Regions from separate parts of the Homo sapiens genome. Here all the other regions are reported to be linked to region 1. The links are microRNA targets in miRTarBase. Many come from high-throughput screens and were not tested one by one. Region 1 holds a microRNA gene; each other region holds the end of a gene's coding sequence.

Evidence for each region. Region 1 holds the annotated microRNA hsa-miR-3175 (CGGGGAGAGAACGCAGUGACGU, at 2,640-2,661, shown strand). A microRNA usually pairs through its seed, bases 2 to 8, with sites in the 3' UTR of a target mRNA and lowers its output. Matches are read on the target gene's strand: a 7mer-m8 pairs with bases 2 to 8, a 7mer-A1 pairs with bases 2 to 7 and ends in A, and an 8mer does both.
Region 2: miRTarBase lists PER3 as a target of hsa-miR-3175. Seed matches in the 3' UTR shown: 8mer at 2,895-2,902.
Region 3: miRTarBase lists ASPH as a target of hsa-miR-3175. The part of its 3' UTR that is shown has no 7-base or 8-base seed match.
Region 4: the mRNA of AP1B1 is a reported target of hsa-miR-3175. Seed matches in the 3' UTR shown: 7mer-A1 at 3,654-3,660 and 7mer-A1 at 3,621-3,627.
Region 5: miRTarBase lists IGFBP4 as a target of hsa-miR-3175. Seed matches in the 3' UTR shown: 7mer-A1 at 3,405-3,411.
Region 6: the mRNA of NAT9 is a reported target of hsa-miR-3175. Seed matches in the 3' UTR shown: 7mer-m8 at 816-822.

What each region holds. Positions count from the first base shown.
Region 1 is chr15:92,901,769-92,906,841 of GRCh38, forward strand. It overlaps MIR3175 (microRNA 3175), which reads left to right and starts at 2,631; the gene lies at 2,631-2,707. All of the region lies in intron 2 of CHD2 (chromodomain helicase DNA binding protein 2), which reads left to right. RefSeq lists enhancers at 2,164-3,363, 2,225-2,404, 2,685-2,924 and a silencer at 2,475-2,524.
Region 2 is chr1:7,841,923-7,846,995 of GRCh38, forward strand. PER3 (period circadian regulator 3) reads left to right here. Exons shown (of 22, transcript NM_001377275.1): 22 at 750-3,255. The coding sequence ends at 833. Among named protein-coding and RNA genes, the nearest start is that of UTS2, 8.6 kb to the right of the region's middle.
Region 3 is chr8:61,498,809-61,503,881 of GRCh38, reverse strand. ASPH (aspartate beta-hydroxylase) reads left to right here. Exons shown (of 25, transcript NM_004318.4): 25 at 373-3,326. The coding sequence ends at 523. It overlaps CLVS1 (clavesin 1), which reads right to left. Exons shown (of 6, transcript NM_173519.3): 6 at 2,253-4,427. The coding sequence ends at 4,340. Among named protein-coding and RNA genes, the nearest start is that of ASPH, 210 kb to the left of the region's middle.
Region 4 is chr22:29,324,492-29,329,564 of GRCh38, forward strand. AP1B1 (adaptor related protein complex 1 subunit beta 1) reads right to left here. Exons shown (of 23, transcript NM_001127.4): 23 at 3,189-4,404. The coding sequence ends at 4,330. Among named protein-coding and RNA genes, the nearest start is that of SNORD125, 6.2 kb to the right of the region's middle.
Region 5 is chr17:40,455,924-40,460,996 of GRCh38, reverse strand. It overlaps IGFBP4 (insulin like growth factor binding protein 4), which reads right to left. Exons shown (of 4, transcript NM_001552.3): 4 at 3,272-4,548. The coding sequence ends at 4,414. Among named protein-coding and RNA genes, the nearest start is that of IGFBP4, 15 kb to the right of the region's middle.
Region 6 is chr17:74,767,260-74,772,332 of GRCh38, reverse strand. It overlaps NAT9 (N-acetyltransferase 9), which reads left to right. Exons shown (of 7, transcript NM_015654.5): 5 at 56-115; 6 at 279-373; 7 at 475-1,804. The coding sequence ends at 609. It overlaps NHERF1 (NHERF family PDZ scaffold protein 1), which reads right to left. Exons shown (of 6, transcript NM_004252.5): 5 at 4,097-4,186; 6 at 2,980-3,865. The coding sequence ends at 3,677. Among named protein-coding and RNA genes, the nearest start is that of NAT9, 6.5 kb to the left of the region's middle. RefSeq lists a silencer at 1,329-1,428.

The sequences.
Region 1 (5,073 bases):
AGAAAGTTATATGAATGAAAAAATGTACATTTAAAAACAAAATCACTTAAAGGACCCTTTGACTGATGCCTCTCAGTTTATATTTTTATGTGACTTTATATTTCTTTTGATACACTTGACATTTTAGGAAATTTTGATGTGATTTATCAAAACCTTTACTTGATGGTTAGAGTTCCTGCATTTATGAAATCAAATCTGTAATAACAGAAATCCTGGAATACTCTTAATATATACTTCTATTTTGTGTTTGTTACTGTGATTAATATTTGCAGTTGTATATTTTACATTTAAATTATTTTAAGGTTTGCATTTGTATGCTTAAGACATTGATTTCCTGTTGGTAGATGTATTTTATCCTCACAATTTAGATGTAGCTGCTTTAAATTTATTGATGTATTTCGACAGAGTCGTCTGGAATGCTTTATCTTCTGAAGCTTAAAAATGTACTGTTTGTGCAAATCATGATCTGTTTCACATTCCTTGGAGTACCTTGTTAGTGATGAAGTAATAAAGCCTCTAAGATGTTTTTGTTGTATGACCTCTGTATATTAATTTTTAAAAGTACATATGAATGCATTTTTTGATGTGTTCTTTATGCATTTTCATATTATAAATTTTAAATCATGCAGTTTAACAAGGATGTGATTCATTATGTGGTTTTCCTTCCCAATTTTTACTTTTCTAATTTTTATAAATAATACACTTTTCTATTAGGCTAGTGAATTTGAAAGTTTTGAACATGATGTGTTACTAATATGCTGAATTCTATTTATTTTATTTGACTGAAAGCATATTGAGCCTTGCTTTAGAAAATAAGTTACCAAATTTTTTTGCATTGAGTTGTCACCCAGTTTGTAGTGCTGTCTTAATTGAATTGCCCATGTAAATTACTAGATTAAATTGAGGACAGAAAAGTTTTTTACTCATCCTAAGCTGTTTTTTTCTGGAAAGTAATGACAATTTGAAGAAATGAGAACCTCCAGATATATTTGGCAAATTATTAAAGATTCAGCACTAAAATTGTTGCTCCCTTGAGTGTATCATTTGCATAGGTCTCACATGGGTTTTGGCTCTCTTATGCAAGGTTTGTGGTTAACATCATTGATCAGACTGTGCTTTCTAATTCTAAAAAATTGAGCAGTGTTGGTATTCTTTCAGTATTTTTACTCTCACCTGGAAAACTACCTGGAAGTTGTCAGGCATTTGCTTACTGGTAGTGGAGGTTACAGCTGTACATGAAGCATGTACTGACTGTACTTTTAAATTGGTTTGTCAAGTATACTTTGAATCATATACCTGATGGATGTCCAAAAATATTTAAGACTCTTTGAAAAGAAGATAGTTACTTTTAAATTAGTTACCCTAAATTTCATATCTTAATACATGTACATAATTATGACATCACTTCCTTTTAAAATGTGCAGCTGTAGAATGTTAGTGGTGTTTTAATGTGGTAGATTAATATTACTTCTACTGAGCTGAACTGTCCCTGTAATTAGTACTTGGTTCCTTCTGCCATCAGAGTTTTTATTGCCCAAAGTATAGTGTTTAGGGAATACTACGAAAATCACCTTTGCAGCCTGAGCCACAGAAGAGGAAATGAGTTTGCAGGTCAAGTAAACTTTGGTCTGAGAATTACTTTAGTATCTGGAAAGAATGAGTGCAAGTTTAGGTAAATCTGGTAATACCCTGTTTTTGGAAATAGTGCAGTAGTTAATAGTGGTTATATAAGTTTGTATTTTAATTTGAAGTTAATGCTAAAGTCTGTTATACTTTATCACGATTTTTGAAAATTAAAAACTTTAAAAAACGCGATTTTAAAAACATTTGATTGATATTTGTAAAATTTCTAAGTATTTAAAACAAAGTTCTAATGATGGACATACGAGAAGTATACCATACTTTTTATCTGAATAATTTGCAGCTTGGGGATAACTTAAGTAACATCAAAGAATGAAAACGGGACTGTGTGCACACAAAGAGTTCAGTGTGTTCTCCACGGCACCACGTTAGCAATTTATCTTAAGAATTGAACGAGTTTATTAAATTTATCTCCAAATCGTCTGCCTTTGAGCCAGATTTATTTTTATAACCTGAGGTGCGGGTAAATCCTACAATTTTCAGGGGCGCTTTACCAGATATTCTAAAAGGCTGGGGATGATTAGAAATGGCATAATGCAGTTACTTGTGTACTAGAACAGGCAGTTTAACTGGCAGCCATTTTATGACGCTGATAATACATTAAAAAACGGGATTTTGGAGAAGACTGAATCTAAACTAATAGAAATCTGAAATACCAAAGCCTATTTCCTTCCCCCTCTCTGCTCTTCTGGGGAACTCTGGTGCCGACATAAAAGGCAGTTCGATAGGGCACGCAGCAGCTCTTTGAGCCCCTGGCATCTTGATGCAGGTCCAGCTCAGTCACAAAATGGCTGTTCCTTTGTGCCGCAGCGCTGACAGACATACTGCATTGCACTGTGTACTCGCCAAACAGCAGGAAGTTGCCGTGCCGAGTTCAAAGGCCGGCCGGCGCCGGCGCGGGGTGCTGATTGGCTGTGCGCGCGCCTGGTAACAGCAGGGTCAACGGCGGCGCCTTCGGCAGCCTCCGCCCCGTGACGTCAGACGGCTCCCCTGGGGGGCGGGGAGAGAACGCAGTGACGTCTGGCCGCGTGCGCATGTCGGGCGCTTTCTCCTCCCCCTACCCAGGGAGCCGCACGCCGAGGGGAAAAGGAAGGGAACTCTAGTTGGGACTTTCCGGTGGGCGGCTTCTTTCCTGGACGCGTTTGCTCCTGGCAGTCTTGTCCGCCCTTGCCTGTAGCGGTCCGCACCCTGTAGTGTGTTCTTTTGCCCATTTCCGGGAATGGTTTATCCTCTTTGAGAAGCGGCTGCTTTTGGAGAAAAAGTGCAGGCACTATTTATAAATTTTAAAGGCACTATTTGGAAATCTTAAAATAGAAAATTTGCCCAGTTTTACATTTTCCCTTTTCATACCTTAGCGTCCCTTCTCCCCGCCCCCGTTCAGTGTGAAGAGATGAGTGGGTTTAATTTTGTTACAATTGACCAAAACGTTTGAGTGTCAGAGGCGGATACTTTTATTTTAGTGAAAACCTCTTGACGGGTGTTAACAGCTGTTTAATACATGGCTCATAAACAAAGGGAAGATTATTTGAACTTGTCCCCATGCGTTTTTACTTGGTACCGTACATTTTCTCAGTTGGCATTTGATGGAGAAAAACTCAGGTCAGTATGTGCTAAGTACTATATATTTAAGATTCACAGTGGGATAGTTTAGTAGAAAATAGAAAATTTCACGTTCAATAACATTAAAAAGTGGCAGAATACAGCGTTAGGCAACCATTACTATGTAAGTAAATGTCAGAAAACTACTCTTTTAAGTGTTAATAGCACTTGCTAATGCAGGGTGACTGACAGCTTGGCTGATAGTGGGGTCACTTGGCCAAATCTTCGCAATTATCTTCCCTAGGCCTCCATTTCGGGAATTCTGAGTCCCGGTAAACGGTTGGGTTTATGCTCACTGATTTGCCTTGTTTGGAAACCTTTACAAGGATTTCTGGTTAAAACTTCATCGTTCAGCAACGATGTCTTAATAATTAAATTACACATACTGAATTTAAGCAAGCAAGAAATTCAGTGGATTTATCTACTGTGGACAAAGTTTTTTTCCTGCCATACTAGAGTTTTTTTAGCAGTTGGAGTAGGCTGTCCTGTAGTTAGCCATAGTTTAGAGTTATTTTAGTAAAGTGTGTTACTTCAAAGGAGATGTTGACCCTTCAGTGCAGGTGATATTTGCTTGGGCGTATGTCAAGTTTCTGAATACAGTCTGTGAAAGTTAGAATTCACTATGATAGTGAGTTTTGTAGGTTCTCATAATCTAGGTTCTTTGGGAAGAATTATTTGGATAGTTTGTGAAAACTAGCTGAAATTGCTTTTTCTGTTACAGAGAAGTGTTCATCAAATAATTTGTACCTGATTTTAAAATTATATGCTCAAATGTATATTGCGTATAAAATGCTAACAGAGAATTAAGTGTTTATAGAACTTGATGAACGTTTAACTGTAGCTTCCAACTTAAAGTATACCTGCCACAAGAACGAAAGTAATAATCTCACCTCCCTTTTTGTGTAGAGACTGAATTCTAATTAGTTGTGTTAATAGTATTTGCTGAATACCTTTCAATTCCTAAAACTGGGGTCAAAGTAGTCAACATTGCAGTTAATTATTTTTGAAGAGGATATGAACTATTCTGTTATTTAAGATATTTTAACCTAAATACCATTATGAGTTAAAATGCATACCATGATATAACAATTTACCTATTAACTGTTGACAATCTTGCAGCCAATTAAGTTTTTTATAGAACCAGTGTTCTTAGGTATGTTTGTTGAGCCTTCTACTTTTTTTCCCTTTGATGTGGGGAATAGCATCAAGCAGCAAGAAAAGAGTGTTGATCGATTTCTCTCTCTTTCTCTCTCTCTCTCTGTATCCTTGCCGTTTAAAATATGCACTTTCCAACTAGTATTTGGCCGTTAGGGAGTTAGTATCTTTGTAAAGATTAAGTCAGCAGAGGAAGGTGGGCAAATAATATTTTTGATAAAGACTTTTGGTTGTGACAGTTGTAGCAAGTTATTGCTTGAGGAGTGAATCTGGAAGTTTATTTGAATTTTAACTAAAACTCACAGATTTTATCATTAGTTTACTCTCCCTTACCCCCAAATAAAACAACTGACAGTTATGAGAGACCTCCTGAGACCACCTGGTATTTCCAAACTCCTATCATTTCTCCCATAAAATTTGATACACTAAGTTTGTTTCTGGTATAAAAATTGAGTGACTGCTCTGTGTCAGCCATTAAATTTTTTCTTGCTATGAGCCATCTTTTTTTTTTTTTTTTTTTTAAGATCCTTTAGTTTTTAGCTGCTTCTTGGTAACCTTAGAACTTTGCTTCCTTGAAGAACTTGGCTTTCTTGATATGGTGTCACTTGAACAAAGAAACTTAAAAAAAAATTCCTCTAAGAGTATTTTGTGTACAGGTGAAAGTAACTTTGTGGCTTG
Region 2 (5,073 bases), not on the chromosome of region 1:
AGAGTGTACTCATACAAACCTCAGTGGAGTAGCTTGCTACAATCACTCCTAGGCCCTATGGGACAGCCTTTTGATCCTAGGCTACAAACCTGTACAGCTGTTACTGTCCTGAATACTGTAGGCCGTTGTAACACAGTGTTACTTGTGTATCTAAACATAGAAAAGGTACCATAAAAATGTGGTAGGATAATCTTACAAGACCACCATTATATATGCAGTCTGTTTTTGACCGAAACGTCATGTGGCACATGACTGTATTTAAACAATTTGTCATTTGCCTTTTAATAATAAAGAATGAGGCTGGGCGCGGTGTCTACTACCTGTAATCTCAGCAGTTTGGGAGGCCAAGGTGGGCGGATCACGAGGTCAGGGGTTCAAGACCAGCCTGGCCAACATAATGAAACCCTATCTCTACTAAAAAACAAAAATTAGCTGGGCGCGGTGGTGGGCACCTGTGGTCCCAGCTACTTGGGAGGCTGAGGCAAGAGAATCGCTTGAACCTGGGAGGCGGAGGTTGCAGTGAGCTGAGATCGCACCACTGCATTCCAGCCTGGGTGACACCGCAAGACTCTGTCTCAAAAAAAAAAATAAAAATAGTTATAATAATAATAAAGAATGAACTATAATGAAATATTTTCAGACATGAATAAGTTGGGGATTTAGAAACATGTGACCAGCCTTTTACTGTTTTAAAACTCTTTAGGTGACATTGACATCAAGTAACTCGCCTGCTTTGTTCTTTTTTGGAGGCCTGTGTCACTTGTGAAAATGAAGATTCAGCTGATGGTGCGGCCACATCCTGTGGTCAGGTTCTGGTAGAAGACAGCTGTTGAGTGACTGTGAGGATGAACCTTCATACCCTTTCCAAGACGTGTTACACAGACAGACCTTTTTAAGTCCTGGACTTTTAAATGACCATGAAGTTATCATTGAATGTTAAGATTTTTTCTTCTTGATTTTTTAATACACGTAATCTTTTTGAAGCAGACATTGTATACAGAATCTTACTTCTCTTTGTTCCTGATATATTAAAATGGCCAGTTAGGCTCTTTTTGTAGTTGAATTGTCTTCTAAAGAGATTGGATGGCCTCTAAAGAGGTATGTGTATCTTTATTTCAGATGTCACCCAGAGTAAATTATAATTAGAAGTATAGCTAGAATGAGCCCCAAACCTTAGCCTCATTTATTTTGTTCTGTTACATAAGTCATTTTCCCCTTAGAGTGCTTGAAGAAATGCCACCTACAGGTTGTGTACTTTTCATAATGGTTTCCATGAATGTAGTACGTTCATACAGGCTTCATTCAACCTGGCGTTCCCCTCCATAATTAAGATGAAACATTCCGGTTTTCTCACAACACATTAGCACATACTGTCCATTAGCATATCTGGGATAACCAGGTTTTGGGGGTTGAGTTTTGGCCTTCATCCTTGTAGATCCCTTTCCTATTGATTTCCCACCTTCCAGTGAAATTCTGAAAGTCTTATCTTAAAAATCGATCCGCTTACCATGGGCCTATTCTTGTAAGTTTCAGTTAGCATTTGCATGTGTAATATTAAAATGAAAGAGCTTCTTACCCAGTGCTGTTGCCCTTTTGAGTATTTTTGTTTTTAAAATAATGATTGTAAAATGTTTTACAAGTAATGTAAAAGCTAGTATCATTCTTACATACTTCTGTGTTTAAATTTTCATTCTTACCAAAACAGTTAACTCTTTCTTTCCAATCAATTTATACAAAAGAGGTCGCTCCAGCCCTACCACAGGTCTGACTGGCACTGCCTTTTGTTTGCCCTTGAACAGGGCAGTGTTGTGGGGACTGCAAAAGAGAAAACGTCCAGGCGAGCCCAGTTGTCCTCGCCCACAGGGTCCTGCAGGCTCCATCAGTCACCGCTTTCTATGGCGTTTGTAGTTGTGTCTTTTAAGAAGTGAGTGTGATTGTTTACTTGATAAATCAGCTCACTCTCTGGTGCTTTTTAGAGAAGTCCCTGATTCCTTCTTAAACTTGGAATGATAGATGAAATTCACACCCCTGCAGATCAGAAAAAACAAATAGAAGAAAATGAGGGTTACAGTAACCTGTTGTCTTTATATAACTTGCAACAAACTAATTTATTTTTTTTTCCTTTTTTTGTTTTTGGTTTTTTATGGTTTTTTAAGGAAAATACTTTTCTCCTTTGAAGTTTTACAGCTTTTTGTAAATGCGTCCTGATAATGATTAGGAAAATCGACCTTTTCATCCATGATGACCATCCTCATAGCTCAGATCTCCTTTCAAAGTAGTGGCTTTCTGGATGGTAATTCCATCTTAAGGTGTCAGAACTATTTTCAAATGCTGCCTTTGACAGTTCTTGGAATTTTCTGATATTAAGCAGTTCCATGCAAATATTCGTGTTTTATAAATAGCTCTCATAGTCTGCTCCATCTTGATAGTTAAGTGATTTCTGAAGCGTTTGTGTGTGTGTTGATCAGGTTGTGTGATATTTTTGCTTGATAGAGAATCAAATTTGAAACAATTAACCAGCCAGTAGATTGTCTGTCAGTGACCTTCTGTAGTAATAAAGTTTTTGCCACTGTAAATAAAAACAGTATCCGTAGCTATCAGGATCATTGCGCACTCATATATGCTAAGCCTTCTGTTCTCTAATAGAAGCCTTTCTTTTCCATTGTTTCTGGATATTTGTATTATCCAAATGTGCTTATTTCTTTGCCTTAGCACACGTTTTATGGAGTACTTGTTATACTAGGTTTGATTTGAAACTGGTGCTTGTCGCAGAACTGTCAGAGCATGAGGAGCGCTCCTCCTGTGGGTGGACGCATTCACGCACTCCCAGGTTGCACCTGCTGCTGGCGGTGAGCAGGGGGTTCAGCAGCTTGACCGATGCCCCCCGAGGGGGCTCTCCCCAGCTTAAACTTTGTTGTTTAAATTTGTTAACTTTTTATATTAATGACTATTGAAAGTGGTAATAAAAATTTATATTATAGGCTTCAATGTTTTCATGAATGTTACCCAAAAAGCTGTGTTTTCTTTGGTCAGAGGTCAAAATTTATGAAAAACAAAATGCTGTATGAATGGAAATCATTTTGCAATTGAGTGACACTTCATTGTAATTCACAGTGTAAATTTAATCCAAACTGAAATTTTGTTTCAACTGAATTTGTAATTAACTCTGAATTTGTTTTTAATCATTAGTAATATTTCAGTTGGGTATCTTTTTAAGTAAAAACAACAAATAAACTCTGTACATGTAAAACGTGAGAAATTGTCCTGCCCTGTGTCAACAAATCTTTGAATGTGTATTCTGTATCATTTAGAAGTGCTTCTTATGATCTATTGAGGGGCCCTCATATTAGTTAACCTTGTGTTTCTCAGGCACATTCTGTGTTTGCCTTGGCCAATGTGTCTGAGCACCTACTATGTGGAGGATGAAGATGCAGGCACTTTGAAATGTATTGGCTTATTTAGCCCTTTTACACCTAGTGTTCCATTATTGGAACGCTAAGCTTGTGGGAGCTAGGGTGAACCTGTGTACAAGATCTGACTGTGTAACTGGTGGCAACAAAATCTAGAAATTAAAATAGGGAACAAGATCCTGAAGCCAACAGAGCTTTTTAAAGTTTACACCTTTCAGACCATTTGCACCTTTCTTTTCTATAACAAACCATAATAAGAGCAGGAAGAAAAATAGCTAAGTATACTTTGCGTGTATACTACTCTGACAGGTGCTGGTCTAAGTGCTTGATGTGAATTATTTAATCCTCACAACTGCCCTGTGAAATAAGCATTGTGTTATTGTCATTTTACAGAGAAGTAAACTGAGGCAGGGGGAGTCAAGTAACTGGATCAGAGACTCACAGCTGGTGTGCACTGGGAGTAGGAATCTGACCCTAGAAACCTGATGCAAAGCCCCAATCTGTATGAATCATCACCTGATACACTAAAATGAGTAGGGACTTCAGAATTCTGCAGTGGAATTCCACTTTTAAGTTATCTCTGATACAGGAATAGTTTTATGGTGCCAACATTGTGTTCCAGAGAACTGGTTTAATTTCAACACTGAGAGACACACCACAGTGTTATCATAGCTGTCCTCAATGTTAGCATGTTTCTGAGCTTGCACATTCATTCCAGTTTAAAACATCTCTCCCTTAGATTTGTTCTTGATGTCTTTTTTTTTTTTTTTTTTTTTTTGAGACGGAGCCTCGCTCTGTTGCCAGGCTGGAGGGCAGTGGTGCAATCTCCGCTCACTGCAAGCTCCACCTCCTGGGTTCACGCTATTCTCCTGCCTCAGCCTCCCGAGTAGCTGGGACTACAAGCCCGCCACCATGCCCGGCTAATTTTTTTGTATTTTTAGTAGAGACGAGGTTTCACCATGTTAGCCAGGATGGTCTCGATCTCCTGACCTCGTGATCCACCCGCCTCAGCCTCCCAAAGTGCTGGGATTGCAGGCTTGAGCCACCCCACCCGGCCAAGTTCTTGATGTCTTTAGGGTAAACGCTCTGAGACCTGTACTCTCTAGGAAACTTGTGATGGTCAGTGACAAGATTGACACAAGTCGTGTGTTGCTCTTTGGTTGTTGCAGACCCCTCTGGAATGTGGTGGGATGTCAGAGCTCAATGAGAGAAACAAGTTTCTCATAAACATCCAGGCCTCCCCTATACATGGTTCTGTGTAGAACCACACAGAACTCTCAGGAGTTCACACTGTATATTCTATACATACATAAACCACATTTATACAGATGTATTCACGGAATAGAAGTCAGTACTTACACACATAGTTTTTAAAAATTCGTAAGCCAGGCTCTTTCTTCCACAATCTTAAATCTTGCCTCAGCTTTCTTCTCTCTGCAAGAGACATCAAGGTGTTTTTCCCGGTGTAAGAAACTGTGATCCTTGAGCTCACAGACGCTGAGATCATACAAGTTTCAATGTTAAAAGATTAAAATTGTCAAGTGTTCAGGACTTTGGTCAGCCAAGAGAAAGAATCTCAGCACATGAACTTCCCCCACGAACTTCAGAAACCAAGGAGCATCAGACACTCCCGCCCTTCATCTCAGACACCCGTAACTAGAGA
Region 3 (5,073 bases), not on the chromosome of region 1:
TGTCTTGAGAGGCATAGAGATGCCTGAGACCCAGTCACTGCCCATATGTCTAAACCAGAATAATTGCAAGACATGTAATAATATACAGAATAATTGCAAGGCATGTAATGAGACCAATATGTCTTCATCACAAATCCTCTGTTGTTTGTACATCTCCAGCACTGAGCAATGAAAACTGATGTTCATAGCAAGATTTCTGAAATTCTTTCCTAATCATCAAGGGAAGAATAAACTTGGGCTTGATGTTCTAGTTATTTGGTTATGTCCCAAAGGTTGTTACCAAAGGTAGTTCTCGCACATGGACAGGAATCGATCCTCAGACATCTGAACCACACAAAACTATATTCAGGAATCCTTGTCTTTCTGCTGCAGGACCTGGGAGGAAGGCAAGGTGCTCATCTTTGATGACTCCTTTGAGCACGAGGTATGGCAGGATGCCTCATCTTTCCGGCTGATATTCATCGTGGATGTGTGGCATCCGGAACTGACACCACAGCAGAGACGCAGCCTTCCAGCAATTTAGCATGAATTCATGCAAGCTTGGGAAACTCTGGAGAGAGGCTGCCTTTCTGGTTCCATCTCCTTGGGTGTGAGGATAGAATTTCGAACACCAAGAGTCAATTCCCTTGACTTGCAGCCCGAGTAATTCAAAGCCTCCTCCTAGGGTCAGAAGACACTAAAGGGAATATTTGCCTCGCTGCAATTCATTTAGGAAACACCCTGCTGTGTGTCATCTCATGACAGCACTGGTCTTCTGCCAGTATTTAAGGTGAACATTTGATAGCTTCTACCTTACCAGCCAAAGATATTTTTTCCACATAGAATAGGTCTAATTCAATGTATAATGAGAACATATGTAGAAACTGTGAATGGATTGCTTTAGTTTGTAATTTTTCTATGCAGTTATATTTTTCTAGTGTAGCTAGACTATTTTGTCATCATGTACCACTACATTTTTGTTTATTTTAATGACAAGCTGTATAAATGCTTTACTTCTAGCTATTTAATGGTAGCATTACTGGGGAACTCAGACTTCCCTCTTTTAATTCTTCTTAGTAAAAGATACTCATGAAAAAAGCAGTTTTATTTTCCTAACAAAAAAGAAAGAGCTCATTATGTCAGTGTCTATGAACTGTACCCATCCCAACTCTCAAATCGTTTGGTTTTTTTTATCTTGATTGAGATCCTCTTCTCACTATGCTAGTGGTGGAGATATTGACAAAATCCTATTTCTTTCAAAGAGGAACTTTTCACACCGAAAAAAGAGCATGGAATTATTTTATATTGTTATAAAAATCCCAGATGCAAATTTTTTTAATGCCAATTATTAGAGCTTCTGGGGAAAAAGTATAGTTCACGGAAATAAAACTATGTTCTTTCAGGGTTGGGTGGATAGGTGGCTGCTAGGGTGTCTGGCTCCTGGCGGCTTTGCCATCCATGAGGCAAGGGCTGGGAACACAGTGTCTTTGCCTATGGTAGATCCATGTGAATGTCAGGAAGCCAGCTCTTCAGTCTTGGAGATGATTTCTGCTACAATTCTGTAGAAAGATTAAGGATGGCAGAGTAAAAGGTTACCAAGAATGCCAGGATGTTTTTCTTGGGCGTAGGAGGTCCAGATTACTTTCCTTTTTGATGAAAGAGTTTGGAAGACTGTCCCATCTCTCTGGCTTGAGAAATCTCTGCCATTTTAAACATCACTGTGAAATAGCAATTATTATCATCTGTATTTAGTTTTAACATTACCCACAACATAGAAATAATAGGTAAAAATCGTCTTGCCTACTCATTCCAAAGATGATCAAGTCATTAATCTAGCAAAGTATTCATGTATCAGATTTTGTATATTTTGAATCAAAGCTAACTAGGAATGTTAGATATAAGAATGTAATGATATTCATGCACTGAATTCTAAGCCAATATGAACAAAAATGCTGCATGAATGGCACATATAGGTCACCAAAGTTCATTCACAGGTAGAAAAAACTTGTGCTTTCTTTTCCATCTAAAAACAAAAGGAGACTTTCTTTATCTCATTTAAAGAACAGCTCTTTGAAATTGAAATTGACCCTTTTTGCTTGACCTTAAGGAGATTAGCTTCCAGTAGATGAGTTTGCAAAATACTTTTCCTGTTCTTTTGTTTTGCTGGTATTGAAAACATCCCACTAAATCAGATGAAGAGGCATGGGAGGAAAAATATCCAAATTAATTACTAAAATCGAGAAGAGAAGGCAAACTCTTGAAAAGTAAAAAGGTGTTTGTGACCTTCAGTATTTATTGAACAGAGGAAATAACTGACAAGGGCAATACAATTCAATGTTCATGTAGTAACATTCATGTCACTTGTTGAATTTGGTTCTCATATGTATATTGCATACACATAAATTCAAACTATAAGTCGTCATTTTTGAGCCATCATCTTACATTCATGTAATGAAATTATGGAAGAGAGTAAAAACTAGCTCTTAACTTAGTAAATATAATATGGTATTTAAAATCAGGTCACTACAGTAAGGTTCTAAGTATTGCCAATTGAAAAGCTAGAAATGGTATTACTGTTGCAAAGTGTTGTCAATAATTGACTCCAATAGCATTGTAAATACTTGTATCCCACAACTATTTTAAACCCAAGCAATAAAATGGATTTTCTAATTCACTTCAATTCTTTATTTCTCTTACCTATCTATGTCTTGGTACATAAGAAAAGTGTTTCCATCACTGCATTGGTAGAATTATTTCAGTGTTATTATTTTTGTGATTTCGTATGTCTACACAAAAATGAATTAGTTTAATTTATATTGTGATACAGTTGTTTGAGAAATATTTTTAATTCTGTTTCAACTTTATTTCTCCAAGTGTATAATATAAAAATTACTTCTGTTATTGTTCTCTACCAATAGGGGAAAAAATTAAAACATTAGATCCATTGAGAAAGAGATGATGTAATAAATAATTAAGATTAGTAATAATATTATCAGGGGTGATTATGACCAGTTGAATAATCTCTTTCCCTTGAATTATTTAGCTAACAAATTAACTCTCCCAAATATTTAAAATAATGTAAAATCATATTTTACTGCCCATTATTAACTAAAATATTTTTGTTTGACTTTGAGCACCAACTGGTAATACTAATAAATACCCATGTCATGCAGATGGCTGGGCGAATAAGAGATGTCTAAAAATATGCACTGGTCTTGGAAAACATGGCACAAGTAAGGATATCATATATGATGTCTGTTTATTTTATGTCTGATTTCTTTTGAATGAGTAGTTGGGGACTCCATTTCTAAGGAGACTAGGTAAATAAAATGACCTTTGACATTTCATCCTGCATTTCTAGTCTTCTCTTACTTCAGTACTTGCATATTTAGCCATCCATATGGGTCATGCTCCATGATTGAATATTTACCCTCTCAGCAACAACCATGGTCTTTCTCCACATCTTTAATGGTTGCAGGAGGGTTGTGGGGGCAAGGGTAAATGGTTTGATAGCACTTTTCTTTGCTGTAGTGACCCAGTTGAGGCAACTGGAATGGATTCATTAATCACTGACATGTGATTTTCATGAGACATCTCCTCTGCAGACACATGCTGCACTAATGGGCTTTTGAGCTGCCTGTGGTAACTCACATTGCTCAGATGAAATAATCGTATTTCACGTCCATGTGTCTTCCTTTAACGTCAGCTCATGACAGTCAGCTAGTGACCTGACAAGAGATGTGACATCAAAATAATTTTTTGCAGGATATCATCAAAATAAGCAAACTTTGCAAATACCCAGACCTATGAGAACATGCTCTTAGGCTGAACAATTCGATGCTGGTGATGAGGTCAAAGGAAATAATTCAGTAAGAATGGAAATTACTGGAGATACTATTGTCTCAGGGCTTTGTACTACATGAAACTTGACAGTGGTGTCTGTACAGTTTAACTCTGATACATTTACTTGGAAATGCACTTAATTTTCAAAAACTGGAGAGGGTCCCTGTGTGATACCTCAGAAAAATTCTTGTCCTAATGCAGTGTGTCCATCAAATTTAGTCTTTATTTTTTCAATTTACTACAATAAATATGAAAGGAGGGAGAATCTTTTTTACATAAATGCCTTGCATCATCCTCCAGTCCCCTCACTGGGGGAAAAAAAAAGCATCTCTCAAGTCTTTGTCCAACTTTGGCTGCTCAGACCGATGGCTGGTGACAGTCACTGCAGGGGTTCAGGAGTGGAGGACCTTGTGTCAAGCAGAACACACGTGTCTGCATGGGTCAGTTGTGCATGTGCTTCCTGGGTGGCTGATACCACTGAAGGCCAGTGTGCAGGAGCATTGGGGTGACTCAGGGTTCAGTCCAGAGCCAGGAGTGGCTGGGTGTTCTCATTCTCTCCCTTCTCCTCATGTTTCAGGGTCCCAGCTTCTACCACAGACTGAGATCTAACAAGAGGGGAGGGAAAAAGACAGAATTACAAACAATTCATGGTGACAATTTTGGAACCTTTGAAGACATCCGGATTTTATATTTCTCTTTTTAATAGACACTCAAAAATTAACTGGGTGCAGTGGCACATGCCAGTAGTCCCAGCTATTCAGGAGGCTGAGGTGGGAGGATCGCTTGAGTCCAGGAGTTTGAGGCTGCAGTGAGCCATATTGTGCCACTGCACTCCAGCCTGGGTGACAGAGGTAGACCCTGTCTCCAAAATAAAAATAAGAAATAAAGACACTCAAAATAACTACATAATATATTCCCTTTCGTATCTCTGTTTTTCTTACTTCTTTTGCTTGCTAAACCACATTTTTACGGCAAAAAAGCATTTTGGAGTACTGGAATAATCTTTGCAGTGATCTCTTCTCTTGGTAAAAGGGACATATGTATTCTAGCCACACTCTGCCCCAGCATCTAAATATTCTGTGTACCTTCAGATATATAAAGTTTGTTGAATTTTTAATGTTTTAGTGTACCTTTTAAACCTTTTGTCTCTCAGAGTCATTGGAAACTACCATGCATGATGTTAAGACCATGAATCAGATGGTAAAGTTAGACTCTGTCCCTTACTGGCTGGGAAGCTTGGGGGAGTTCTTA
Region 4 (5,073 bases), not on the chromosome of region 1:
CCCAACAATTTGGGAGGCCAAGGAGGGCGGATCACCTGAGGTCAGGAGTTCAAGACCAGCCTAGCCAACATGGTGAAACCCCATCTCTAATAAAAATACAAAAAATAATTAGCCGGGTATGGTGGTGTGCTCCTGTAATCCCGGCTACTTGGGAGGCTGAGGCAGGAGAATCACTTGGGTCTGGGAGGCGGAGGTTGCAGTGAGCTGAGATTACACCACTGCACTCCAGCCTGGGCGACAGAGCAAGGCTCTGTCTCAAAAAAAAAAAAAAAAAAAAAAAAAAAAAGGCAGCTGGGTGCAGTGGCTCACGTCTGTAATCCCAGAACTTTAGGAGGCAGAGGCGGGCAGATCACCTGAGGTCAGGAGTTCAAGACCAGCCTGGCCAACATGGCGAAAATCTGTCTCTACTAAAAATACAAAAATTAGCCAAGCGTGGTGGCGGGCGCCTGTAATCCCAGCTACTTGGGAGGCTAAGGCAGGAGGAACACTTGAGCCTGGGAGGCAGAGGTTGCAGTGAGCTGAGATCATACCATTGAACGCCAGCCTGGGAGGCAGAGGTTGCAGTGAGCTGAGATCATACCACTGAACGCCAGCCTGGGCGTCAGAGTGAGACTCCATCTCAAAAAAGAAATAAAAATTTAAAAATGAAAAAATAAAAAAAAGGCATGAGGACACTCTCTGTAATGGGCTAATAATGGAAAAACCTCTGCGATATAAGCCCAACATGTATTCCGTGCTACTATTTCCACACAAGAAGGGAAAAAAATCCAATTAGGCACTGCCAAGTCTCTTTGGATAATTACGTGGTTTCCTTTGGGGAGGAAAATGAGGGAAAGGGGTAGGTTTTTACATCTGTCTTGTCTTTAGATTTTGAGCCATGTGAATGTGTTACCTTTTCAAAACAAGAACTAAAATAGAAAATGCATCTTGGGTATACCCTCTGGTTCAGCAGTTCCGGGGCTAGATCCTACAGCTACATCCCTGCCCAGGCAGGAGGGTGTATGTGGGAAGTATTCGCTGCAGCATTGCTTAGGGTGCAGAAACAGCCTGAATGCCCCGCAGCAGGGACTGGCTAACGGTGGCCCATTCACACAAGGAAGCCTGAGGCGGTCTGCTCCTACTGATAGGGAAAGAGCTCCAGAAACGACTGTCAGGTCAGAGAAGCGATGTGCTAGCAGTGTCTAGGTAGGCCATCATTCGTTTAGTAAAACTCTATATGGATTTGCTTATACACATGTGCAGAATATCCCTGGAGGAAAATCAAAATCTAGTGACAATGTCTGCCTTCAAGGGAGGAAAATTAAGGACTGAGGATGGGGTGGGAGGGAGAACTTTATTCTCTGGCTGGCTGACCTCACCATGGTCCTGAATTACTTGCTCCACAAAAATGAACGCAAACCACTAGCTGAAAATTAAACAACGTAAAACCAGGTCCCGCAACAGCCTTGGCAGTGTCTGGTGCACAGGGGAGCCCATCGGCCCTTGGGTATGTGTTGGACCCTCCAGAAATAACTGGTTGCTGTTGTTGGATTTCCTGATTGGCTGGGAAGGTTCAAGACACTTGGGAATCTTCCCAAGAAAAGTCTGGGAAGTTCCCCAAGCTGCGGGATGCCAAGGCCTCCAAGAGGCGAGACGGGGAGGCCTGAGCGTGTCAGGACCAGGAAGTGCCACATGAGCAGGAGGGAGGCGGCCTGTGATGACCCTCAGAGGTGAGGGAGGGACAGGGAAGCTGAAGGGCACAGACTGGCTATGCCCTGAGGTACTCTTCCTAAAGGCAGGGGCCCAAAGTAGCATCCTGTGTGTCTATTCTCCTGATGCAGTAGTGTGGGGGACTGGGAGCATGAAGGCCCTCCCTGCCTCAGTTTCCCTGCATGTAAACTAAGCCGCATTATATGCTTAGTCCAGTATATGCTGGGTCGCCTTATGCTGAGCACTGTGGGGGTGAAAGAGGGGCCCAACTGTAGTGAGGCACCGCTCACAATCACCTGAGGCTTGAGCAGACTCATTCAAACACAAGGTGTCTAGGGATGGTCCTCCTTTCTTGCCAGCTCTCCTCACCCGGGTGGCTTGTCCTGGGCCTCCGGTGGGGACAGCGATCCCACACTTGCACTCTTCCGACCTTGCAATGGAGGGGTGGGGAGGTGAAGTGCCAAGCTCCCTGAATGGCTGAGCTGGCAGGCCATGGGCGTGGTGGCCCGTGCAGCTGCTTCCCAGGCAGAGTGCGAAGGTATTGGGCTCAGGGGAGGCAGACGACACGGCAGGGTGAGAGTCCCTCTCATTAAGGGCTCACCAACCTCTAGTTCCATGGCAGGGCAGGGACTCCAGATGCATTTGGGCAGAGACTCTCAGGCGAGGCAAGAACCAGGGTTGCACAGTCAAGGGCCTTGGTTGGTTCTGGACTCTTTGGAGGGGCCACAGCTGGGCACACAGCTCGAGCCCTTGACCCTGGGGTCCCCAGGGCAGCACAGTGACACCACAGAGGTCAGAGGTGGGGCAGTGGAGGGCCAGGTGCCCCTGTGATGCCCTGCAAGAGGGCAGGCTGTCTCACCCAGCTTCCAGCAGCCAGGAAGGCAGCGGTGTGTGTGAGGTGGGCAGCATGTGGGGGGACTAAGTGCAGACAGAACACGAGGGAGCGGCTGGAGCTGAAACAGGCTGAGGGACACCTGGGCTGCTCCTCCCTCAGAAGCAGGCTGAGGCCCACCAGCCAGGAGGCAGCTCAGCCGATGAAGCCCTGCCCAGGGTCTGGCCACCCTCACTGGGAGCCAGGCCAGTGCCAGGACTGGGGCCACACAAGGTGTCCTCGGTGGCGGCTGGCCTGGTCCACACGCCCACCCCCTCTCCCACGGCTGCCCCTGATCAGGGGATCTCCCACGGCCCCTGGAGCCTCCCAGATGGCAGGGAGCTGGGGAAAACCACAAGGGGAGCCCAGCCTTCTGGCCAGCATCACAAGGCGAGGCATTGTCAGCTCTGGGGGAGGTGGGATCAATGGCAGGAGAGGGGTCAGGGACAGCAGCAGGCCGCAGCAGTCAGTTTGCCAAGGATAGGATGGAGGGAAGGCGCTGTCCTCAGAGTGCCACGGGAGGGGCTGCTGCCGCACATACCACTGGAGCCTTTGACCCTGGGGTCCCTGCAGCCCGGGACTCCTGCCCAGAAGAGCCTCGGGCCTGACACACTGGCTGGGGACACACTTGATGTCATCATTTTTATTCATTTTCTCTTTCTGAAAATAAGAGTAAACATACAATATATATTTTCTGATGATATATATTAGATCTAGTTACCGTAGGGTCAGAAAACCATCCCCAACCACTCGGAGGCAGCTTTCAATCCTGACATTCGGTGGAGGGGAAAAAAGTGTCCGTGATTGCCAAAAGCCGAATCTTTCTTTATTATTACACAGCAGTAACAGGAAAACCTAATGCTCTGTCAGACACAACTGAAACCTGGGAGGCCAGGAGGAGGGCAGCAGACACTACAGAGAAACCCCGAAGAAACCCAAACAGGAGGCGCACCCGCTTACCCAGCCCCATCTCTCGGCCCAGTCTTTGTGGCAGGAGGCCTGGGCTCAGAGGCGACACTGAGGAATGTATCACAGGCAGTGACCACCCTTGGGGCAGAAGTGGGGAGTTGGGGATAGTGCAGCTGCCAGTCGGTGGGGAGCCCGAGACAGGGGCTCTGGGAGCTTCTGCCTGGTCTTGACCATGTGGGTCAGCACTCGGGAGGCTGTGGCCCAACTGGCACAGCTGCAGGGCACCAGCCTGGTGGTTGCAAGTGGGTGGTGCAGGCCCTGGGCTCCTCCCAGCCTAGCTCTGCCCCTCTGCCGGCACCTACAGCTCCTTGAGCCCCAGGCCCTAAGTGAGCAGCTCTCCTGGTACCAAGGGGAACCCCTCCCTGCACACCCAGGCCAGGTTGGCAGGGTCCATCCCATGAGAGGTGGCAGTGGAGGGCCCTTTAACACCAACCGGAGAGACCAAGGAGCCAGGGGCTGCCGGGGCTGTGAGCCGGAGGGGCAAGCTCCACACTCACCCTTCAGGCACAGCTTCTGTGGCTGCTCTGGCTCTGTTTCCTTTGGTCCCCACCTCACTTAACCCCACATCACAGCCACAGGAGCAGGGGTGTCCCAGAGCACGGGAGTGCACTGCGCTCTCACCCCAGGAGGGGGTGGTGCCCTACCCCAGGGATCGGGTGGGTTCTGCCATCAGGACCAGGGAGCCCACTGAGTGGCCTGGAGCCCCGCCTGGTCCCTCCTGCGAGGAGGAAGATGTGCTGCCCCCGAGGGGCCTCCTCGATGGGGCGGGCAGAAGGCTGGGGTGGGCGCTGGCCGGGGTCTCAGTTCTTGAGGATGGTCTCGTAGGCCTGGTACACGTGCTGGGACACCTCTGGTGCTCGACACTTCAGGGACAGCTGCAGGGGAGAGAGGGGTCGGGGGAAAGAGCGCTCATCCCTGGGGTTCCTCTCAGGAAGGAAAGGGGTGGGGAAGAGAGCAGGAACCAATGGGACAGCGTGGAGTGCACACAGCCTGGCGGCAGCTGCGCCTGGCACAGATGTGAGGTAAAGCGGAGGGGGCGGCTGTCGCAGCCAGCCGGGTGTGGACCAAATATACTTGCAGCCCACACACCTGCTGTCAGCCCAGTCACCAGAGCCCTGCTGGCGAGCAGTGTGAGTCACGAGCCGGAGGCTGCCAGGGAGTGCCCGGCCCCCACCCTGAGGGCTGCCCGGCCCCCCAGAGTCCCTGAAGGTCTGGGGTCCTCAGGACTGAAGCCTGACAGAAAATCCCGAGGGGGTGCGGAGGGCTGGGAGGGAGCCTGGAGGGGTGCTGGGCTCATTCCTGGTTTCCTGCGTAGGAAGCAGGCACGGTAGAGACTTTGCCTCCGCTCTGGGGCCTGAGCTTGAGATCACAGGCAGAGGAGAGAGGAGCCCCCACCCATCCACTCTAAAGCACTGGTTCTGCAGGGTGCAGTTAGGAAGTGGGAACAATGGAGTTCCGCAGGTCAGCAGCAGCCCACGGGCCCTCCAGGTCTCCTAGGAAGGACTCTGTGCACACTGTGAATGTGTGGAAGTGGGGTGTCAGCA
Region 5 (5,073 bases), not on the chromosome of region 1:
TGGCTTGGGTGGTCTTCAGAAAAAGGGTTCTGACCCCAATTTCAGAATTTAGAGCTGGCAAGGGGACCAAGAGAAGGAGGGGACCCAGCCAGCCATGGAAGCCACTAATCTCCATCTTTCCCTGGGGGACTGCACTGCCGCCTCCACTGAAAGCAATTTGTCATGCCCTGAATTAAGTGACTCCAACAAGGGTTTAATTTCAGCTTAATGGCTCTGTTTTTATGTGTAATTAAATACTATAGCATGGCAAAAATATGTTGTTTGCACTTTAGAGACTGTGTAAGGGCCTAGGAAGCCAATCCCACCGAGTTGCTGCTCCCAGGCTCCACCAGCGCCTCCCCCAGTTTGGCTGGAATTGTCCAGGTAGAAGGGAAGGGGGCTGGGGACCTAAGGAAAAGAGGTGGGGGGTGGGGGTGAGGGGTGGGGTGGTCCTGGTGGCGCCTGCTCACTCGGTAGAGCATGTTTCTAATTATCTGCAGCTACTCCCTCCACTTACACTCCCTGACCCCACCCTCCCCAACCCTGGAGCTTCAGATACAAGAGGGGACAGGTCACTCTGGAAGTGAGGATCTAATTAGACCCTTGGTTGGCTGCAGCAGTGTCTGCTCCTCCATGGGTGTGCCCAGAAGTCTGCCCCACGGTCCTGACCCAACATCCCAGAGGCCAGCCTGCCTCCCAGCTCCATTCCACCACATCACCTTGACTTTCTCTTTCGAGGTCAGAGAGGCCTGGAATACAGGGGGAATCTCTGTCAGGTAACACTTCAGGCCATTTACCACACAGCCACATAACAGCCCCCCACACTGGGAAAGAGGACCGAGCAGGCATCCCAAATCCTGCATGCCTCGTAACATTCCTGGAGCAGCTTGGTGGCAGAATGTGGCTCAGGGTACAGCGGGGTTAGGACAACCAGCCTTTTCCTGGAAAGAGGTGGGAGATGGCAGTGGCTGGAACTTCAGGGCCTGAAGAGCAAGCAGGGCCCAGAGGCTTGGCCAGCTCTCCAGAGATTCCCCAACCTGAATCCAAGGCTGGAATCAGTTCAAGTCTCCATTTTTCCTCCCTACTCCCACCCCACCTTCTTGCCAGTGGAAAACCCAGCCCCCAACCCCCAGCCAACATCAGGGCTTGATCTCTATTAGTGAGCTGGGAAATGGAAACCAAATGCTTGATGTAGATCAGCTAGGGGTTGTTGGCAGGCGGGATGTCCCATCCCCTGCTCCAAGTCAGTGGGAGGGAATGACATGTCTCCAGGAGGCAGGACAGAGCACTCAAGGACTTCAGTTCTCAAGTCCATCCAGGTTTAGTGGTGCCACCAGTACCTCCCTCCCACATCTCCCAGAGGTGCTGACACCCCTGTGGCAACTAGAGAGACCATTTGGGTATTCCCACCGTTTCAAGGGTGGGAGGGCCTAGCTGCAAACAAGAAGCTGCTTTTATTTGCTTTTTGGTACTTAGGACCTGGCTCCAGGATCCTGTGGGCATGAAGCCTGGACAGGGCAGTGTTTCTGTGGGATGTGAAAGTCCTCTCCCCAAAGCACATGTTCATTCTCTAGTGTCAGACATCTCCCCACAAACCCTGAGGTGGGATCACCTAATGAGCGAGAGTCCAGTCATCCACAGCCAGGAGAGACAGGCGTGCTCCGTGAATGTCTCACTCCCTCTCTCCTCACATCGCACACGTGTTCACATGCCACATATACACACCACACAAATGCACACCACACAAATGCACACGCCACATATACACACCACACAAATGCACACGCCACATATACACACCACACAAATGCACACCACACAAATGCACACACCACATATACACACCACACAAATGGCACACCTTCCCTTCACACATCAAACAGGCATGCACACCCCCAAAAAGCCCATACACTCACGTTTCAGGTGTCACTGCGTCATACTCACATGCATGCACACACACATACTCCACAAATGCACGTATGTCACGAAGTTACACCCAGGCCATGCACACAGCTACTTCCAAGCCAATTTGGCTTTTTTGGGAGGCCCATGAAAGAAAAAGGACCTCCTACCACCACTGCCAAGGGTGCAAGCCTAGAGCATCGGGAAGGGGACTAGAGACAAGGGGGTTGAAAAAGATGCCTTAGGGAAAGAGATACTTTCCCTAAACTTGAAACCTAAAACTTAATCTTCAGCGTGCACCACCTCCCATCCCCACAGGCCTTGGCCTGGGCTCCAGAAGGAGGGGACTCTGTGAAGAGTGGCTGGGGCTGAGGAAGCAACCCTCAACACCACTTTGTTCTTTATCTCCTGCTGCTGGCAGCCGCCGTGGTGCCTCAGGGAGACCAGATGGCTGCAGGACTTTGCTGCTGGGGCAGAGCTAGAGAGACAGAACTGCAGACCCAGCCTCAAGATGCAGACGGGACAGGTGCCAACAAAGTTGGGGCCCAGTGAAATCAGAAGCCTGGAAGCGCCTCTGGAGCTGGGGAGGGGGCTGAGAATCCAGGACACAGCTAGATAGGAGGGAGCCCGCGCAGCGGGCGGCAGGCTCAATGCAGCGTCTCCAGACTGCCTGCAACCTCCTGGAAAAAGGCCCCCACCGAGAGATCAGCTTCTGCTCCCGGACCCTCCACCCCCTGCCACACACATGCGTGCACACACACACACAAGGCACAGAGGTGTGGGAGGGGAGGGGCATTTGGAGGATGGCCAAGAGTCCAGGCATACCATGTGAGCACAATCTCTGAAGCTGTGGCTGGCACTGAGTCTACAGCAAAGTCAACCCCTCCCAACCTCAGAATCCAATCTCAGCACAATGCCCGAGTCAGAGATCTCGGCAGTCAGAGCTGTGGAATGTGCTGAAGCATCTACCCCCTTTCCTCAAATGCAGGGCAGTGTCCCTGCCCCTCCCCAACAAATTAATAAATCAAATCCAGATGCAAGCCCAGTCCGCCCGATGCCCTAGGAAATGCCCCAGCCCCACATGCCAGCTGATCCCAGAGACAGCTCTGCCCCCACAGGGCTGTCCTTGGTCATGCCCCCCTTTCAGGAGCCATTGTTTGCCCACCAGGAGTCTAAGTAAAGACAGCGCAGACTTTGAAGCCAAGGAGTTCCCTAGGAAACTTCCGTTGCAGGGAAGAGGAAGGTGGATTGGCCGTCCTTCTGCAGTCCCTTACCATACAGACAGGTCTGGGGACCACACAATACTCACCTCCCAAAATCTGTCCCCGTCTCTCCACCCCTGGTGCATCCCTGTGTCTAACTGAGAATAAATCAACCAAACACAATCATCTGGACATTTTTTGGTTTTGTTCTGTTTTGTTAAAAAAAAGAAAAAGAAGAAAAGACATCATGGCCAACTGGTAGGTTCCTAAGTCTCCTTCCATCCAGTCAAGCCAGAAGATGCCCAGGGGAGTAGGGAGGTGTGGGGAGGGAGGTGTAGGGGAAGGAGATATGGAGAGGGAGGCAGAGCTACAGGGAGCGAGCCACTGGAAGGATAGGTTCATCCCGGTGACTTCATGGCTGTGACCACAAATGGGGTAGGGAACAGGACCCAGGAAGCCCCTCATCCCCTAGCACGTGGGTCTTCTCCATTAGGCACATTCAGTCCACTCTTGCATTCTTTCTTCCCACCCTGACTGCTCAGAGAAATGTACCCCACCTCCCTAGCCCTCTGTGCTTCAAGTCTTCCTTTGACCCCCTTCGCTCTCCCACAGCAGGGCTCTCAGCTGCCAGCCAACCAAGCAGATGGTGCAACAACCAGACCTAAAGGAAGGACCTGGGGAAGAAGAGAAAGGGAGCCTGGCAAGTCTGAGCTTTGGGAGTGGGTCTGGACCTCGTGACCATTACTCCATCTGCTACCCCACGCTTCCTTAGGCTCCCACCCTCTGGCTAGCTTGAGAGGAAGGACGATGGTCAAGGTACATGTCTCTTCTCCTCTGACTCTGGGAATGAGATTTTTCTACTCCCACAGGCTTGAACTCTCCTTATAGGAGTGTCTCCACATGCCAAAATCAGAGGAAGTCAGAATAAAACCTCCCAAGGCTGAAAACTAGAGCTGGCACGTAGTACATGGTCAGTAAATGTTTTTAGGTGGCTGGATGAGTGAAGGAATGAGTGAGTGAGTGAATCCAGGATCGATCTGGAAACACACCAGGGCTCAGACCTCTTGGGCTAAGTGCCAGTCTCAGTCCTCTTGGGCTGTGTAACACCAAAGAGAACACCCCAGGCTCTGGCTTACCCCAAGGGCACACCCATGCTCACAAACACACACACACGCACGCACACGCACACGTGCACACGCGCATTTGAGGGAAACTTCTGGGCCGCAGGCAGAGACAGGACTCAGACTCAGACTCCACTCTGGGTCAGCTCTGCAGCCTCCAGAGCACAGGAGTAGCAGGGGACGCTGAGTCCCTGGCCTGCTGGCAGGCCTCACTCTCGAAAGCTGTCAGCCAGCTGGTGGCAGTCCAGCTCCCCCTTTGGCTCCAGGCCCCCCGGAAGCTTCACCCCCGTCTTCCGGTCCACACACCAGCACTTGCCACGCTGCCCATCCAGAGCTGGGTGACACTGCCAAGAGAAGGACATGAGGGGTCAGTTCCGACGCAGGAAAAGAGACCCCAAGTGACCCACCCCAATCCCAGCCCAGCCCAGCCCCCAAGTCAGACGGTCGCTGCTTCAAGATGGCCTCTGAGGGTGGTGACTCTTTTTTGAGCATGGGTCTTCTGAGCTCACTGGAGCAGGGAGAACATGGTCAAGAAGGAAAGGTCCAGAGAGTTCTGGAAGGCAGGACCTTAAGAAAGCCCTCGGGTTTAAAGGCACAGCTGGATTTGAAAGGCTGGGTTCAGGTTGGAGATGTTTTGGGTACATATTCTGATTGGGTTGGGACTTTAAGAATGGGATTATAGTTATGAGGTGGATCCAAGCTGGGATTAAGGTAGGACCAGGGTAAGAGTTGCAGTTGAATGAGGAAATATGACTAAAAGTTGAGCTGGATGAGTTGGGTGAGGGTTAAAGCCCAGGTAAAAACACAATTGGGATAAAGACAGAGGTCAAGGTCAGAATAACTAAAGTTAAGCTAAATTTTGGGTCAAA
Region 6 (5,073 bases), not on the chromosome of region 1:
GCCCGCACTGGAGCCTGGCACACGGCGTCAGCGCCGCTCCTGTTGTCTCTCCTAGAGCCCAGCTGCAGGGGTAAGGGCCTTGGCACTGAGGCCGTTCTCGCGATGCTGTCTTACGGTAAGAAAGTGTGAGCAGACAATGCGGGAAGTGGGCAGGCCCCAGGTGAACTTTGTTCAGGTGTGAGGGTTGGGGGCAGGTGAAGGTTCCTCCTCTGCAGCTTGGGACAGGAGGGTGGGGGCAGGCGCCTCCTTACTTGCCCCTGTCTCATCTCCTCTGCGAGGAGTGACCACGCTAGGTCTGACCAAGTTTGAGGCTAAAATTGGGCAAGGAAATGAACCAAGCATCCGGATGTTCCAGAAACTTCACTTTGAGCAGGTAAGGATGTCCTGGGGCAGAGTGGGGCTTAGACCTGGGTGGTGGGCCTGGTGGTGGTAATACTGTAACTTAGCAGGCTTTGTTCTCTCTGGCTCACGTAGGTGGCTACGAGCAGTGTTTTTCAGGAGGTGACCCTCAGACTGACAGTGAGTGAGTCCGAGCATCAGTGGCTTCTGGAGCAGACCAGCCACGTGGAAGAGAAGCCTTACAGAGATGGGTCGGCAGAGCCCTGCTGATGGCTGGGCCTTGTGGGCAGCCACTCTGTGTGAGCAGGGTGTTGGGCCCATACACTTCAAAGACCAGAGCCCTGCACTGGGAGAGTGCTCCTGGCCCAGGCTGGGAATCACCTTTCGAGGCCCTTCAGACTCTGGCGGGGCTTGCTGTGGCCTCCCTCCAGCTAGTGGTGTGGCTGAGCAGACTCCAGGGCCAGGGCCAGTTCCCTTCTCCCCTCCCGGCCAAACCCAGACCCAGACTCTAGGAAGCTGGAATGGAGGGCAGGGATCCATGGGAGATGTCGGGATGAAGGTGGGAGCTGGAGGTGCAGGGGGACCTGGAACATGGATGGGAGTGGACAGGCCTTTCTCCTTAGAGGCCAGAGGTGCTGCCCTGGCTGGGAGTGAAGCTCCAGGCACTACCAGCTTTCCTGATTTTCCCGTTTGGTCCATGTGAAGAGCTACCACGAGCCCCAGCCTCACAGTGTCCACTCAAGGGCAGCTTGGTCCTCTTGTCCTGCAGAGGCAGGCTGGTGTGACCCTGGGAACTTGACCCGGGAACAACAGGTGGTCCAGAGTGAGTGTGGCCTGGCCCCTCAACCTAGTGTCCGTCCTCCTCTCTCCTGGAGCCAGTCTTGAGTTTAAAGGCATTAGTGTTAGATACAGCTCCTTGTGGCTGGAAAACACCCCTCTGCTGATAAAGCTCAGGGGGCACTGAGGAAGCAGAGGCCCCTTGGGGGTGCCCTCCTGAAGAGAGCGTCAGGCCATCAGCTCTGTCCCTCTGGTGCTCCCACGTCTGTTCCTCACCCTCCATCTCTGGGAGCAGCTGCACCTGACTGGCCACGCGGGGGCAGTGGAGGCACAGGCTCAGGGTGGCCGGGCTACCTGGCACCCTATGGCTTACAAAGTAGAGTTGGCCCAGTTTCCTTCCACCTGAGGGGAGCACTCTGACTCCTAACAGTCTTCCTTGCCCTGCCATCATCTGGGGTGGCTGGCTGTCAAGAAAGGCCGGGCATGCTTTCTAAACACAGCCACAGGAGGCTTGTAGGGCATCTTCCAGGTGGGGAAACAGTCTTAGATAAGTAAGGTGACTTGCCTAAGGCCTCCCAGCACCCTTGATCTTGGAGTCTCACAGCAGACTGCATGTGAACAACTGGAACCGAAAACATGCCTCAGTATAAAACAAACATTATAAAACGAACGCGTTGCTTGCCGTGGCTCCCTTCGTACCATGTGTACCTCAGCAATGAGAGTTCCCTTGGGGCCACCCATTCCTTCCACCAGTCTTCAGGTTAATGAAGAGTCAAAGGTCCCCCAGGGCTTCCCCACCCAGCAGGTGAGATAGGGAGGGGCCCTCCACGACCCCTGTGGAGGGGAATCTGTCAGGGGCCAAAGGGTAGAAGCAAGGGTGGGGTGGGGGCAGGTCAGCTGAGCAGGGCACTGCTGTGGTAAGGGTTTTGGATGGTTCCTCTGACAAGGAGCAGGAGATGGCCAGATAGTGACTGGCCTGGGGGACACTGTCCACTCCCTGATTCCAGATCTACCTGCTTTACTCATTCCCCTCAGCCCAGGAGCCTATTTTCTGAGAGGTGTCCCTTTGGGTTGGGTGGAGACTAGCCTGGGGGCACCTTCCTCCTGAGCACCTGCCCGGAACCTCCCGGCTCTGCAGCCTAGCTCTTGCAAGCCACCTTCCTGGACCTCCAGATCAGGCTTCAGGTGCCAAAGGTATCAGGGACCTGGGTCTTTTGTTGGGGGCAGGGCACCTTGCCCTTGAACAGTCCCTTCCACCCCAGCTAGCCACACAGCATGTCCCCGGGCTCAGTGGACCGGTTTGTTTTCCCCTGGCACTGGACACTTGCCCTCCAATCAGGTCACAATGGCCAGATAAGATAGAGGATCTGGCACCAGCCCAGCCTGCCCCTGGGAATTCTGCACCCCACTGGCTATAGGCAGAAAGAGTAAAGCCAAGTCCTCACATTCCAAACCCAGCTCCATCCTGGGACACACTTTCCACGCTTCTGGAATTAAAGGAACCTCCCAGAGTCCTCTGAGAACGTTGGTCTGAGCTCCCACTTCCCCTTGTAAATATCCCCGTTAGACAAGGGGTCCCCAGCCCACAATCGGTGCTTGCAGCCCAGCACACAGGCACACTGACCACACCAAGCTGAATACCCGGCTGGGTGCATGCATCTTCCTTCCTACAGGACTGCAGCTAGGCCCTCTAGCTAAAGCTACCCAGGCTTGGGGTCACAGGGAGCCCTTGATGGCCCTCCCTCCAGTGTACCCCACCCTCCCAGCCAAAGACCACCTTGGCTTACCATTTCTCAATTTCTACCTATAAGGGGTCCAAGGCCAGAGGACAAAACTTCCAAGGAACACACGGAGGCTGAAGGGTTTGGAGGAACCAGCTGAATTTCTGAAAGTGTTTCCTTACAATGGTGGTACCTGGCTCAGGGATGGGCAGGGGTAGCCAAACCCTCCCCGTGCTGCCCAGTTCGCTGAGGGTGGGAGTAGGAACAAAAGTTTAAGGCTGAGGCCACTGCCATGCCCTGGATGTAACAACCAGGAAAATCATGTTAATCAAGGAAACAAAAATTCCTCTAGACTCTGCAATACTGCACTCTTAACAAAAATCAAATGAAAACAAGACGTGTCTGCCACAGGTCTCAGGGTAACAGATGCCCTGTCCACTGAGAGCGGCAGTTCTGCAGTCAGAGTTCTTTGATCAGCCCTGGACCCATTTATCACATGGGGGAGGAAGGGAGGGTGCCCTCTCGCCTGGTCCCATGATCCTGGCATGGTGCAGGTTCCAGCGATGTCCCAGGCAGGGTGGCAAAGGGACACCCGGTAGGATGAGGCACTCAGTGAGGAGGAGGGAGGCAGAGTCTCCTTTCTGACTGCGGGAGGACGGGAACACATTCACCTTCCCTAAAGTCAGGGAAGAACATAGTTCTCTAGAAAAATCATTTGTCAAGAAAGGGGATGTGGGTGCTGATTTGTACATTGATTCAGGGGAGTAATTGGGGAGAAGGAAAAAGGTGGGGTGGAATGCTGGCTCGGCCCTGCCAGTCACTGGGTGGCAGCAGGGCGCTCAGAGGTTGCTGAAGAGTTCGTTTTTCTTGCTCCAGTCCATCTGCGGGGCCCGTTTGCTGCTGCGTTTCTGGTGGGCCCTCTCTTTGGCCATGGCCAGGGAGATGTTGAAGTCTAGGATGGGGTCGGAGGAGGAGGTAGACGAGGGCGCTGTGGAGTCCTGTTTTGGGGGGCTGTCTTGGGAATTCAGCTGTAAAGAGAAGTGGGGGCAGGAAGTTGGGAGTCAGTCCCTCATTAGGCTCCCTGGTCCTCAGCCTTGGTGAGGTGGCTCCGTTGGGGCCGTGCCCAGGGAAGCCAGGTCACAAGAACAGAATGCGGCTCAGCATGTGACCTCAAAGGCAGGCTGGTGTGCCAGGAACAAGTGGGGCCTGGGAATCGGCTTCCTGTAACCCAGTTGCCACCCCCCGCATGGCTGGCCTACCTCCTCGCTGGTGTCACTGGAGGCGGATCTCACCAGGGCTGGCCTGGGGCTCTCCAAGGCTGCCTCTGCCAGGGCTTCACGACTGTTCTCCTGGCAGAGAGGAGAGGGTTGTGGGTTGTCAGAGGATGGGGTGAGGGGGTCCTGAGGAGGGAGGGAGCTCCTGGGGAAGTAGGGGCCTCAGACTGAGAAGAGGTAGCACTGATGCCCTGGCCACCCACCCCTGGTTCCCACCTCCTGAGCCTGCTGGGGCTCCTTTTTACATTCCTTTGGGGATCAGAGGGCAGGCTGGTTCTACTGCTCAGGCTGGAGGGATGGGATGGGAACAGACCATCATGGGATTAGCTGAACCGCTCCCTCTCCCTGGGCCACTCCAATGTGGCTTTTAGGTACTGGCTTGCCTTTTGGGCCAGTGACCAGGGAGGGGCTTCTTGGAATGTGGGGACACATGGGGGCATGGGGAGCCCATGTGGTGCTCCCTGAATCTCATGTGGTCCACCTGACTGTTTGCCAGGATTTGACCCCAGGAATCCTGAAACCCTAACCCTGAAGCAGCAAAGGAGGGCCTTGAAAGAAGAAGGTGGATGGAAAGTTCTAGATCCAAAGATGAGGTGAAAGAAGGTTGAGGGCTGGGTCCAAGGGCCCTCCCCCTTGCCAAGTACCCTGGCAGGAGCTCCTAGGGAAGGGGAACCTTTAAGCAGACCCTGCAGAGTTCCTGCTCTGTGGCCTGACTGAGTCGGCCTGTCCCAGAGCGAAGGCTTTGGCTGGGGCGTCAGCTTGGCACCCAGCCCCTTCCTGGGTTCCTCCATGGCTTCAGCTGGCGCCCAGCCCCACCATCTCTTCCCCGGGCCTCACCCCCTTTCCCTTCTGCCCAGGGAAGGGGGGAGGAGGGGCTTTGTTCTTCCAACCCAGACTAGAAGTAGCAGGGGCCCGGCTGCCCGTGGCCAGACACTGAAGCTCTGTTCTTGGGGGGAAGAATG